2 linked regions of the Homo sapiens genome follow. The protein of the gene in region 1 purifies or fractionates together with the protein of each later gene. This does not show direct contact. Each region holds a gene or a part of one and is shown on either strand. Other genes may lie near its edges.

Evidence for each region.
Region 2: the proteins of POU3F1 (region 1) and TBC1D24 purify together in Homo sapiens (affinity purification with mass spectrometry; one large-scale study listed by BioGRID and IntAct). This does not show direct contact.

Annotation. Positions count from the first base shown.
Region 1 is NC_000001.11:38,043,994-38,048,281, reverse strand, and holds the start of POU3F1 (POU domain, class 3, transcription factor 1), read left to right. Parts: upstream 1-1,488; 5' UTR 1,489-1,538; coding exon 1,539-2,894; 3' UTR 2,895-4,288. UniProt on the Homo sapiens protein: Transcription factor that binds to the octamer motif (5'-ATTTGCAT-3'). Acts as a transcriptional activator when binding cooperatively with SOX4, SOX11, or SOX12 to gene promoters. Acts as a transcriptional repressor of myelin-specific genes.
Region 2 is NC_000016.10:2,495,415-2,499,213, forward strand, and holds part of TBC1D24 (TBC1 domain family member 24), read left to right. Parts: intron 1-619; 5' UTR 620-734; coding exon 735-1,699; intron 1,700-2,295; coding exon 2,296-2,313; intron 2,314-2,823; coding exon 2,824-2,982; intron 2,983-3,799. UniProt on the Homo sapiens protein: May act as a GTPase-activating protein for Rab family protein(s). Involved in neuronal projections development, probably through a negative modulation of ARF6 function. Involved in the regulation of synaptic vesicle trafficking.

The sequences.
Region 1 (4,288 bases):
GCTAGATCCAGGAGAGAAAAGAGGGAGGACTGGCAGCTGAAGACTCCCTGGGACCCAAGCCTCGGTGTGGGGAAGAGGAGAAAACACAGCTCAGTACCCTCAGCCTGGGGCCCAAGGTCGGGTAAGAAGGCACAAAGGAACTGCAGTGAGGTCCGACTCCACTCAAGATCCTTCAGGGAGTCCTCAAGGGCTGGGGCGTGAGGAGGTAGCTAAATTCCACTGCCCACCTTTCCAACAAGGCCTCCTCAATCTCAATTCCCTTTTCAGCAGCTCCAGGCAAGTCCGGGCAAACTCTAGCCCAGGGCTCTTAGCGAGGCTGGACAGCTCCCGGCCTGCACGCCGGATTTCTGGAGAGCCCGAGCCCCTTCCCTGAGCCCATCCTTCTCCTCTCCCGGGGCGTGATCCCACCACGACCACAGCCGATGAGCCGTTCAAGCTGGGAGAAGGAGCGAGAAGGCTGCAGCGGCGCAGGTCAGATACCCCTGGGCCCAACGTCCACCCCCAACTAGCGCCCTTGCCAGCAGCGTTTTCCCCGGAGCCACAGTCTCCACCTCGAGATCTTCTCCTTCTGGAACCCCGGAGCGCGGCCGGGTACCAGGGGCTCGCGTAGGACTGTAGAACCGCTGCCGCCCGCCGTCCCAGCCCCAGCTGCCCGCGCGGTACTCACCTGGGCCTCAGTGCCCGGGAGAAGGTGTGCCCGCGCGAGGCGTGAAGCCAGAGTCCGTCCGACTCCGCCCGCACCGGACGCGCTCTCAGGGCAGAGGAGGTCGGCGGAGTTGTGACGCTGGGACTAGAGGAAGGAGAAGGAAAGCCGAGACGGGCCGGGCAGACGCGCCGAGGAGCGCCCAGTGCACGCTGGCAGCCGCGGGAGGCGAGGCGGGCGCGGTGAGCAGTCGCGCCGGAACCGAGCCGCGAATCCGCGCCGCCTCGCGCTCGCAGCCGCCAGGACCCGCGGGAATCCTGGTCCGCCGGCAGCGGTACTGAGGAGGGAGGGGCGCGGGGCTGAGCCGCTTCTCGGAGCCCGAGCGCCTCCCGGAGCCGGCAATCCCTGCTGCCCGGGCGGGATGCGGGCGGGAATTCAGCTCGCGTGGAATGTGGGACCGGCCGGGCTCGGAGTCTCCAGCGCTGGGGGAAAGCGGGGCCCACACAGCCAGGACGAGAGGGGGTGCGGTCCCAGGGCCACCCCCGCGCCACTCCCCACGTGGCGGCCGCGCCCCCGGGGCGTGAGTGTGTACGCGGACGGTAGGGGGGCCGTGAATGAAGCCCCAGCGGCCAATCAGCACGGCCGGCGCGCGGGACCCCGGGAGCGACGCCCAATGGAGAGCTCTGGGCGGCCGGGCAGGGTGGCGGGCGGGCGCGCGGGGCGGGGGCCGGGCAGGGGAGGCGGGAGGCAGCTCCGCGGGCAGCCAATGGGCGGCGGGCGGGGTGGGGCTCCGGAGCGCCGAGCGGGTCGGGGCTTTAAGCCGGCGGAGCGAGGCGGCGGGGCCCGCAGACGGAGCGGAGCGGCGGCGGCGGCGCGGCGCAGGGCGCGGGGCGGCATGGCCACCACCGCGCAGTACCTGCCGCGGGGCCCCGGTGGCGGAGCCGGGGGCACCGGGCCGCTTATGCACCCGGACGCCGCGGCGGCGGCGGCGGCGGCGGCGGCCGCGGAGCGATTGCATGCAGGGGCCGCGTACCGCGAAGTGCAGAAGCTGATGCACCACGAGTGGCTGGGCGCGGGCGCGGGCCACCCCGTGGGCCTAGCGCACCCCCAGTGGCTACCCACGGGAGGAGGCGGCGGCGGCGATTGGGCCGGCGGCCCGCACCTAGAACACGGCAAGGCAGGCGGCGGCGGCACCGGCCGAGCCGACGACGGCGGCGGCGGCGGAGGTTTCCACGCGCGCCTGGTGCACCAGGGGGCGGCCCACGCGGGCGCGGCATGGGCGCAGGGCAGCACAGCGCACCACTTGGGCCCGGCCATGTCGCCCTCGCCCGGGGCCAGCGGGGGCCACCAGCCCCAGCCGCTCGGGCTGTACGCGCAGGCGGCCTACCCGGGGGGCGGCGGCGGCGGCCTGGCCGGGATGCTGGCGGCGGGCGGTGGCGGCGCGGGGCCGGGCCTGCACCACGCGCTGCACGAGGATGGCCACGAGGCGCAGCTGGAGCCGTCGCCGCCGCCGCATCTGGGCGCCCACGGACACGCACACGGACATGCACACGCGGGCGGCCTGCACGCGGCGGCGGCGCACCTGCACCCGGGCGCGGGCGGCGGCGGCTCATCGGTGGGCGAGCACTCGGACGAGGATGCGCCCAGCTCGGACGACCTGGAGCAGTTCGCCAAGCAGTTCAAGCAGCGGCGCATCAAGCTGGGCTTTACGCAGGCCGACGTGGGGCTGGCGCTGGGCACGCTCTACGGTAACGTGTTCTCGCAGACCACCATCTGCCGCTTCGAGGCCCTGCAGCTGAGCTTCAAGAACATGTGCAAGCTCAAGCCGCTGCTCAACAAGTGGCTGGAGGAGACCGACTCGTCCAGCGGCAGCCCCACCAACCTGGACAAGATCGCGGCGCAGGGCCGCAAGCGCAAGAAGCGCACGTCCATCGAGGTGGGGGTCAAAGGCGCGCTCGAGAGCCACTTTCTCAAGTGCCCCAAGCCCTCGGCGCACGAGATCACCGGCTTGGCAGACAGCCTGCAGCTGGAGAAGGAGGTGGTGCGCGTCTGGTTCTGCAACCGGCGGCAGAAGGAGAAGCGCATGACCCCTGCGGCCGGCGCGGGCCACCCGCCCATGGACGATGTATACGCGCCTGGGGAGCTAGGGCCTGGCGGGGGCGGCGCATCGCCACCCTCCGCGCCCCCACCGCCCCCGCCGGCGGCGCTGCACCACCACCACCACCACACACTGCCCGGCTCAGTGCAGTGACCCCGCGGGCCGGGCCCCCGCCGGCGCGCTGCAGGGCGCGGGCGCGCAGCCCGCCCGCGCGGCCTGGACTCTTTTTGTTCGGTTGCTTTGGATTTTACAAAAAAAAAAAAAAGCCCAGAAACTTTCGAACAAAACCAAACACCCGGACGACCCTCTCCGGTGAGCGGCGAAGACAGCCCGGTAGGCTGCGTCGCCCGAGCCCCGGGAGAGAGGAGCGAAGATCCGGAACTCGCCAACTCACCCCGGGCATCCTGCCCGCCGCCTGCTCTCTGCCCCCATCCCCTCGACGACCCCCGCCCCTGCCCCCCCGGGCTGTTCGGGGCCGGATCCCGGCAGCGGCCTCCCCAAAGCGACAGGTAACGCAGTGCGGGGTTAGGGATTCCCCGGGAGAGAGGACGAAGCGAGGAGAGTTCTCCATCCCCTCTCCCCGCGTGGACTCCTGAGCCTGCGGGTCCAGGGTGGGGGGCTGTCACTTTATTCGCTACACGCCTCTTCTCTCCTATAAGGATGCGCCCCACCCCGCTTTCCCCTTTCTCCGGGCTTGGTTTTTTACGGTTTTTATTTATTCGTGGAGCCTCTCGGCTCCTGGGGTCCTTCTAACTCCGCCCGCGCCCTTAATTTAAATCGCAGTATACTGTATTTATCGGGGCCCCGGAGGGGAGGTCGCGAGAGCCGCGTCTGTGTATAAAAGCAGGAAATAGCCAAAGCTTTAATCTAGCCTAATTTATTTTTCCCCTTATATTTCCCTACCCTACCCTCCCCCCAAAAAAAAGCAAAAAAAAAAAAAAAAAACTAACAAAAAAAATTCGAGTGTTCATTTTTCGTTTCGTTTCATCCGAGCCCCGGCTTGGTTCCCGGCCACGCCGGAGGGGTCTGCGCTCCCACACACCCAGACGGGAAGGGGCTTCTGCCCTGCTGCAGACCGACCGCCGCATAGCGCGGCCCCTGCTCCCCGCGGGGCCCTGCCCTCCTGGCCACACCAAACGAAACTTGGAAAAGTTAGAGAGATTGTTTTTTAACCAGCTGTAGAAATAAGCCGTTCCCTGAGAACCCTCCGCCTGATTCCCTGCAGCTTCCCTCTGCTCCCTTTCCAGCCCGCCGGGATGCGGGATGCCAGGGGAGGCCGGGAGAGAAATTCCCCAAGTTTGGGGTGAGGTGGGAACCATGTAAATATGTGAGATATGTACACACTGGCGGGGAGAAGAAACATTTTGTGCTTGGTTTTTATTTTTGGTTTTCCGGGTTACCCTTCCTTCCTACCCTAAAGGATTTTGTACACTGACTAATCCGAAAAAGATATTTTAATATGATTTCCGAATTTCTGACCCATCTCTATTTATTTTCTGGATGTGTTTGGAGCTTCCCCCTTCTCCGTTTCTTCTTCTGTTTGTTAA
Region 2 (3,799 bases), on another chromosome or scaffold:
ACAGGAGGATTGCTTGAGCCCAGGAGTTCAAGACCAGCCTGGAGAGCATAGCGAGACCCTGTCTCTACAAAAAAATAAAAAATTAGGCCAGGGCGGTGGCTCTCGTCTGTAATCCCACACTTTGGGAGGCCAAGGCAGGCACATCACAAGGTCAGGAGTTTGAGACCAGCCTGACCAACATGGTGAAACCCTGTCTCTAGTAAAAATACAAAAAATTAGCCAGGCATGGTGGTGCATGCCTTTAGTCCCAGCTACTCAGAAGGCTGAGTCTGGAGAATCGCTTGAACCAGGGGCGAGGAGGTTGCCGTGAGTGGAGATCGTGACACTGTACTCCAGCCTGGGCGACAGGGTGAGACTCCATCTCAAAAAAAAAAATTAACTGGGCATGGTGGTGGACACCTGTCGTCCCAGCTACTCAGGAGGCTGAGGCAGGAAGATGGTTCAAGCCATTCAAGGCTGCAGAGAGCAGGGTCACGCCACTGCACCGCACTCCAACCTGGGCAACAGAGCGAGACCCTGTCTCAAAAGAAAAGAAAACTACACCACATTTGAAAAAATACGTTCTTTAAAATGTGAACCTTGAAACACAGATGCTAAAAGTGTTTTTTTAATCCTGCAGGGTGTGAGATGGCAGACAGGTTTGCAGGAAACCCTCAGAAAGGGGGCTGGAGGATTTAGCCACTCTGTCCTCCCCTTCCGGCAGTCCAGGGCCTCCTCCCGAGCACAGCGGCGCTATGGACTCTCCAGGATACAACTGCTTCGTGGACAAAGACAAGATGGACGCTGCCATCCAGGACCTGGGGCCCAAGGAGCTGAGCTGCACTGAACTGCAGGAACTGAAGCAGCTGGCGCGCCAGGGCTACTGGGCCCAAAGCCACGCCCTGCGGGGAAAGGTGTACCAGCGCCTGATCCGGGACATTCCCTGCCGCACGGTCACGCCTGACGCCAGCGTGTACAGCGACATCGTGGGCAAGATCGTGGGCAAGCACAGCAGCAGCTGCCTGCCGCTGCCCGAGTTCGTGGACAACACGCAGGTGCCCAGCTACTGCCTGAATGCACGCGGCGAGGGGGCCGTGCGCAAGATCCTCCTGTGCCTGGCCAACCAGTTCCCCGACATCTCCTTCTGCCCCGCCCTGCCGGCCGTGGTGGCCCTGCTGCTGCACTACAGCATCGACGAGGCCGAGTGCTTCGAGAAGGCCTGCCGCATCCTGGCCTGCAATGACCCCGGCAGGAGGCTGATCGACCAGAGCTTCCTGGCCTTTGAGTCGTCCTGCATGACGTTTGGGGACCTGGTGAACAAGTACTGCCAGGCGGCCCACAAGCTGATGGTGGCCGTGTCGGAGGATGTCCTGCAGGTCTATGCGGACTGGCAGCGCTGGCTGTTTGGGGAGCTGCCCCTCTGCTACTTCGCCCGGGTCTTTGACGTCTTCCTGGTGGAGGGCTACAAGGTGCTGTACCGCGTGGCGCTGGCCATCCTCAAGTTCTTCCACAAGGTGAGGGCCGGGCAGCCGCTGGAGTCGGACAGCGTGAAGCAGGACATCCGCACGTTCGTCAGAGACATCGCGAAGACGGTGTCCCCTGAGAAGCTGCTGGAGAAAGCGTTCGCCATCCGCCTCTTCTCCCGCAAGGAGATCCAGCTCCTGCAGATGGCCAATGAGAAAGCCCTGAAGCAGAAGGGCATCACCGTGAAGCAGAAGAGGTAGGTCGCCGGCAGCCTGTGAGGGGTACACCCAGGGTCGGGGGCTGGGGCAGGACGTGTCTGGCGTGAGCTCATCCTGCCGGCCTCCAGGCGGCCTCTGCCCATGGTCCACCCAGCCATCTGTGCATGGCTGAAAAGACACTGAAACAGGAAGGGCCTTCCCAGTTACAGCCACAGACGAGGGACATCGGGTCCTATCCTCTGGGGCCAGGCCCACGGCTGAGATGAAAGCTGATGCTGGCCATGGGGTCGCAAGGCATCGTGGGAGGCCAGGCCCACTCCCAGGGTCATTTCAGGGCAGCCTCTGCTCCACCCCTCCGGCTCTGGGCTCCGTGGCTGGTCTCTGCTGTGGCTGCTGGGCGTGGCCTCCCCGCCTGGAGCACAGCCCCAGGGGAGCAGGGTCAGGAGTTCATGGTGTCTGTCCTATGTGGATTTGGCAGCCAGCGCTGTGATGGTGCCACGCTGCGGCCTGTTGGCGTGCAGCCCTCTTTCTTCTGGGCCAGCAAAGGCCTGTCGGGGGATCGGTACTCACACTAACCTCTCTTTGTCTGTTTTATTTTTCTTCTCCATGTCCGTTGCTTTCTCCTGTTTTTCAGTGTGTCACTTTCTAAAAGGTAGGTCTGAAACTGTATCTGCACACCTGGCCTCTGTCTTTCCACCAGGCTGACTCTAGGCCAGCTGCTTGCTCTGGGTCTCAGGGCTGCTCTCGTGGGCCAGCTTCAGCAGCGCTGCCTCTGAGCCGGACTGATGCTCAGGCGCCTTCTGTCTGTCTGTCTGCCTGCCTCCCTGCCTGTCTGCCTCTGTCATGCTATCTGCTGGTGTTTGGCTCACCCTGAAGCCTTGTCTTGCCAGAGCAGTTGCTCTCTGTCCTGATTTCTTAGAGAAAAGTTGCATTGTCCCCATCCAAGCTGGGCACTTTCCCTTCTGTAATGGGTGGGAGGTGGGGCTCCTGGGAACTTTCTCCCCGTTGGGCACCTAGAACCCGGCCCTAAACCGGGGCCGGGGCAAGCAGGCGAGAAGTTCCCTCTGGGTTTACTTCCAAAGAGGCTCTGGGGCATACCTCGGGGGGCATGGCCTGGCCCCAGACGTGCCTTCGGGCTCTGACCCCTGCTCGCTCCCCTCAGGCAGTTTGTACACTTGGCCGTCCATGCAGAGAACTTCCGCTCGGAGATCGTCAGCGTGAGGGAGATGAGAGACATCTGGTCCTGGGTCCCCGAGCGCTTTGCCCTGTGCCAGCCCCTTCTGCTGTTCTCCTCCCTGCAGCACGGGTACAGCCTGGCCAGGTAACACCCCAAGGGGCCAGAGCGGGCGGCAGAGCCGCCCAGCCACGTGTCCTGCCCACAGAGGCTGGAAATGGGCCTCAAACCTCGGCACCTGGTGAGGCCCTGCTTCTTCCTGTGGGGCCTAAGAATCAGGGTCCCTTTCTGGGCTCTGTCCTCCCCACACCACCCAGACTTTGGGGGTCATGGCAGGCGTGCCACAGCTTGGGGCCATGCAGGCGTCGTGAAGACGCCTGGGAGGCAGGATCCCCACCTTGGAGCTCACAGCATTGTCTTGGTTGGGGGACCATGTGGGCGGCAGGTCCTGGCTGTGCTCGCTCCCCACCCTGTCATCCACATGGTGCTCTGTCGGGGGCCTGGGGCATGCTGCCCTCCAGGGTGGTGCTGCCAGGTGCAGCCAGGGAGCCTCCCTCCAGCCTTGGACAGCATGTGGCCGTGGGAGCTCTGGGTTGGGCCTGGGGTGACCTGGGGGTGAGGCAGGCAGAGCTGGTCCAGCCCCCACCCAGCACCGTTCACAGGTTCATAACAACTCAAGCATTTTGGCACAGCTGGAGCCACTTCTCCTGGCCCTGCCAAGGACACCAGCCAAGCTCCAGGCGCCACGTTGGCAGACCAGGGCCTCTTTGGCTCCCACATGCCTGGGCTGCGAGGATGGCCCAAACCTCCCCACCGCAGGGACCTGTTCCTCTGGTTCCTGCTTCCCCAGCCCCTGGCGCTTGGCTCTGCACTGGGGCCTTCCACTGCAAGGCCTCTCCCCTGAGTCACACCAGGGCAGGCTGTCCTGGGGATGGCAGAGAAGGGCCAGGTGAGAAGAACACCT